2 separate regions of the Homo sapiens genome follow, and region 1 is linked to region 2. Evidence: fine-mapped expression QTL. Tissue or cell type: tibial artery. Region 2 holds a variant in brackets; the other region holds the start of a gene. All regions are shown on one strand. Distances are from middle to middle.

Region 1 (2,625 bases), 34 kb after region 2:
ACACAGCAGGCTGTCTGTCTCTAGCCCTCTCTGAACCCCAACTTTTCCATCTTTACTGGAGGTAATAACACTGGCCTAGGAGGAGAGCTGATGAGAGAACTGACTCAAGGCACAAGAAACAAGTGACTCAGCCTGCTATCCAGAGGCTGGTGCAGCTTCTTTCCCCAGACAGAGCTGATCCCAGACAAGGCCGTCCCCTTGAAACCTGAGGGGCCAGAGTTCAAAGTACGGCTAAGTTGATACTTAGGGAAGGGCGTCACTGGTAAATCTGGGGGAGCCTTGGAGGAAGTTTGTCCAGGAAATGAATTAAGGAGACTCATCCAAAGATCCTCTCATTTTGCAGGTGGGTAGACAGAGACCCAGTGAGGGGCAGTAATTTACCCCCAAATCACACAGGGAGTCACATTGGCACAGCTAAGACTAGAGCAGAGGGCTCTGGCTCCTGACCCACGGCTTTTTTTTTTTTTTTTTTTTTTTTTTGAGGCGGAGTTTCGTTCTTGTTGCCCAGGCTGAAGTGCAATGGCGCGATCTCGGCTCACTGCAACCTCCGCCTCCCAGGTTCAAGCGATTCTCCTGCCTCAGCCTCCCAAGTAGCTGGGATTACAGGCATGCGCCACCATCCCCGGCTCCTTTTTTTTTTGTATTTTTAGTAGAGACGGGGTTTCTCCATGTTGGCCAGGCTGGTCTCGAACTCCCGACCTCAGCCTCCCAAAGTGTTAGGATTACAGGCGTGAGCCACTATACCCGGCCGGCTTTTTTTCTTTTTTTTTTTTTTTGAGACAGAGTCTCACTCTGTCACCCAGGTGTACAGTGGTGCGATCTCGGCTCACTGCAACTTCCGCCTCCCGGATTCAAGCGATTCTCCTTCCTTAGCCTCCAGAGTAGCTGGGACTACAGGCGCGCGCCACCACACCTGGCTAATTTTTGTATTTTTAGTGGAGACGGGGTTTCAACTATGTTAGCCAGGCTGGTCTCGAACTCCCGAACTCGTGATCCTCCCCCGCCCCACCCCGCCCCCCGGCCTCCCAAAGTGCTGGGATTACGGTAAAGGCGTGAGCCACCGCGCCCGGCAGGGCTTTTTCGATTTCTAAAACCGCGGGTTTGGGGCTCTGCGCTGCAGGCACGAACTGCTCACCTTTTCTCCCCACCTCCAGGGCTCGGGAAAGGCGAAGTCCAGGAGCCCGGACCTGACGCAGAATGTCTATAGCTGCCGTCGGCAGCGTGAGCTGGGGCGGCGGTCCTAGGGGCCTTGGCCGCGGCCGACCCCTTGGGTCCCCTTCTCAGCTGTAGGGCGTCCACGGCTCCGGGCCGGTTCCTGGGCCCAGGACCCACCTGACTCACAAGGAAGCAGATTGAAAACGCAGCCGCAAGGCCCGCGAGCTCGGGCGGAGGTGCGCAAGCGCCGGGCGGTGGGGCGGGGATCGCGCGGGCCGCCCCTCCCTACCATCCCGACCCGCCTCTGTCCCCGCCCCGTCCCCGCCCTTATCCCCCTCACCTTCGCCCTCTCCCGCCCCATCTCCCGTCGCCCTCGCCGTCCCCTCTCCCTCCTTCGTCTCACTGTGCACCTCTCTGCGCCCCTGTCACCCGCCTTCACTGCGCGCCTCCGTTACCCTGCACCATCTACGCCCCTTATTCCCTCCCCGCACCCTCTGAGGTTCCCCAGCCCGCACCCTTCCGCTCCGCAGCCCCCGTTACCAGCACCTTCTCCGCCCTGTCTGCGCACCCCCTGCCCGCCACACCGCCGCTCCTCACCGCTGTCTCCGCTCCCCATCCCCAACCCCGGCTCCTGGCCTCCTTTGGATCGGGAAACCCCCGAGAAGTACCCAGGTTGAGTGGGAGGAGGGGAGTTGGGACCCAGCCTGGCTTGCTTAGTGTTGTGTGAACCTGGGCAAGGCCCAGCCCCTCTCTGGTCTCAGGGTCCCCAGTTGGTATTGGAGGGAATTGCTTTCAGTTGGAAACTTGTTAAATCCAAGATAACTTGGTGAGGGTAGAGTCCGCTGCAGTAACCTGCTTTTTTATTCTTTCTCTTTTTTTTTTTTTGAGACGGAGTCTCCCTCTGTCGCTCAGGCTGGAGTGCAGTGGCGCGATAGCCCACTGCAACCCCCGCCTCCCAGTTTCTTGCGATTCTCCTGCCTCAGACTCCCCAGTAGCTGGGATTACAGGTGTGTGCCACCACACCCAACTAATTTTTGTATTTTTAGTAGAGACAGGGTTTCGCCGTGTTGGCCTGGCTAGTCTTGAACTCCTGACCTCAGGTGATCCGCCCACCTCAGCCTCCCAAAGTGCTGGGATTACAGGCATGAGCCACCGCACCTGGCCTCTTTTTGTTTTTAAGAACCCTGTGGTACCATCCTGGCTAACACGGTGAAACCCTGTCTCTGCTAAAAATACAAAAAATTAGCCGGGCATGGTGGCAGGTGCCTGTAGTCCCAGCTACTCGGGAGGCTGAGGCAGGAGAATGGCATGAACCCGGGAGGCGGAGCTTACAGTGAGCCAAGATTCTGCCACTGCACAATATTTGCCTGGGCAAAGAGCGAGACTGTGTCCCCAAAAAAAAAAAAAAAAAAAAAGATCCCTGTGGTAAGAGCCTGGAATCCTAACCACTAGACCACCAGGGAGCTTTTT
Region 2 (2,756 bases):
CCATCTGCAACTGGCAGTTTAAAAGACACCTCATTCTTGACATGACTCATACTGGAAACATCATCTTCCCCTCAAACCTGTTCCCCCTCTTTTCCCTGTAAGTGCTGGGCACTACCATTCACCAATCACCCAAGCCAAGGATCTAGGAGTCATTTGTAACTTTACCCTTGCTTCCTCGTTCAAGAACAATCCCCGAGACTTCTCAATTCTGCCTCCCAAACATTATAAAAATAAAAACCTTCTCTCTACCTACCAGCTGGATTCAGGCCAACATCAGGGTGTGATAGATTAAAAACGACCACAACTTCTTTGTAGCTCTTCCCATCAAGGCTGGCTTTGTAACTTGTTTTGACCAATAGAATGCAGCAGGAGTGACATCGTGGGACTTCTGAGTTTAAGCTTCAAAAGGCCTTGCAGTTTCTGCTCCCATCCTCTTGGCACACTGCCAGCATGGGAAGAGGACCAGGCTAGTCTGTTTCAGAGACATGGCCCATCCAATAGCTAGCACCAAATGCCAGCCATGTGAGTGACTGTTGCCCATGCTGGAGTGCAGTGGTGCGATCTCGGCTCACTGCAACCTCCGCCTCCTTGGTTCAAGCGATTCTCCTGCCTCAGCCTCCTAAGTAGCTGGGATTACAGGTGCGTGCCCCCACATCCCGGCTGATTCTCGTATTTTTAGTAGAGACGGGGTTTCACCATGTTGGTCAGGCTGGTCTCGAACTCCTGACCTCATGATCCGCCCGCCTCAGCCTCCCAAAGTGCTGGGATTACAGGTGTGAGCCACTGCGCCCGCCTCAGTGTTATAATCTTATGGGACCACCAGGTACATGCAGTCCATCATTGATCAAAATGTTATTATGCAGCATACGACTTTATCCTCAGCTTAGAGGCCATCTCCCTCTCTGCCCCCAAGTCTTCCCTACCCATTCCTCCCCTTCTCCAGACTGGGTTAACTATTCTTCTTCTGTGCTTCCAAAGCCCCCACACTTTACACCACATAGTATAACTTTTCATTTACTTCTCTCTCTCACTCAACTGCAAGCAACAGAGGCAGTGACTGAGTCTCATTTACACTTGTATTGTTGGTGTCTAACCCAGGGTCTGGCACAGCACTGCAACAGAACTTTCAACAATTATGGAAATGTTCTATACCTGCATTGTCTAATACATCAGCCACTAGCCCTACTAGCTATTGAGCACTTGAAATGTAGCTAGTGCAACTGAAGAACTGAATTTTACATGTTATTTATTTTAATTAATTTAAATTTAAATAGCCACATGGGCCTAGTGGCTATGGTATTGAACAGTGTAGGGCTAGCACAGAGTAGATGGCCATTGAATATTTTTGAACAAAGATTACAAGGGAAAGACAGTCATGACAGACCGTTAGGACATGATAGAATGCTATGGGTATAAGCAACATAATTTCATATCGACCTCTCCTGGCTCCTCACTTCACATCCCCTCAACTTTACACTACCAGTGCCTTTGTCTTAGTCCATTTTGTGCTGCTGTAACAGAATACTACAGACTGGGTAATTTATTATGAACAGAAATGTATTTGGCTCATGGTTCTGGAGACTGGGAAGTC[C/T]AAGATCGAGAGGCTGCATCTGGTGAGAGCCTTCTTGCTGCATTATGACATGGTGGAAGACATCACATGGTGAGAATGCAGGAGTAGTGAGGGAAGGGGACAAACCTATCCTTCTATCAGGAACCCACTCCCACAATAACATCATTAATCCATGCACGAGATCAGAGCCCTCATGATCTAATCACCTCTTAAAGGTCCCATCTCTCAACACTGTTACAAGGGGAATTCAGTTTCCAGCACATGAACTTTGGGGGACATGTTCAAACCACGGCAGCCTGTGGCTCTGCCTTATTTAAATATAATCCTAGTTTTTGGCTCTTTATGGCCTGAGTTGGTTGTTCTCTCCTGGACTTGCCCAGATTGATAACACCCCTTCTGTGACATGGGCTGGTCTGAAGAGCCCTCTGGAGAAGAGAGCTGTTCTCATCTAGTTTAGTCTGGCCTGAGCAGAGAGCACTCTGTCATTGGGAGGCTTGGACTTCATCATAGAGGACCCATGTGATCTGAATTTGTCTGCATGGCAGGCTGCCAAATCCCTCTTAAAAGTGACAGTTAAAGCTGGCTGTACTGTGAAAACACCCCAGGAGGAAAAGAAGCCACAGTATTGGTAGTCTTATTGCTGTTCCTGGAAACCATGCAAACCCCAGTCAGATGACTTCCAGCCCTGGCACCAGAGATATTGGATCAGTGTCTGAGAAGGAAGGAGGAATGGACACAGGCCCAGGCAGAAGGGGGCTGGGCTGGGCCAGGCCAGGGCCCCACCAGGCAGGCAGAAAAGGCTGGGCCTGACACCGAGGAGCAGGCCTGAGGGAAAGTAAAGGCTAGGGAAGAATAGTCCTTTCCAAAAGACTTTCCAAAATGTTCATTAAAATAAAAAGTTTAGGCCAGGCCTGGTGGCTCACACCTGTAATCTCAACAATTTGGGAGGTTAAGGTGGGAGGATCACTTGAGGCCAGGAATTTGAGACCGGTCTGGGCAACATAAAAAGACTCAGGTCTCTACAGAAGTTTTTTTTGTTTTATTTTTATTTTTATTTTTTTTTGAGACGGAGTCTCGCTCTATCGCCCAGGCTGGAGTGCAGTGGTGCAATCTCGTCTCACTGCAAGCTCTGCCTCCCGGATTGATGCCATTCTCCTGCCTCAGACTCCCGAGTAGCTGGGACTAC

What was found. PIP is the estimated chance that this variant, and not a neighbour inherited with it, causes the effect.
Region 1: it holds the start of HDHD3, and the variant in region 2 is fine-mapped to the expression of HDHD3 in tibial artery (GTEx, PIP 0.92).

What each region holds. Positions count from the first base shown.
Region 1 is chr9:113,375,594-113,378,218 of GRCh38, forward strand. It overlaps HDHD3 (haloacid dehalogenase like hydrolase domain containing 3), which reads right to left and starts at 1,393. Exons shown (of 3, transcript NM_001304509.2): 1 at 1,136-1,393. RefSeq lists a silencer at 1,245-1,764.
Region 2 is chr9:113,341,841-113,344,596 of GRCh38, forward strand. No RefSeq gene overlaps it. Among named protein-coding and RNA genes, the nearest start is that of WDR31, 2.9 kb to the left of the region's middle. The variant C/T (reference allele first, on the strand shown) is at 1,592.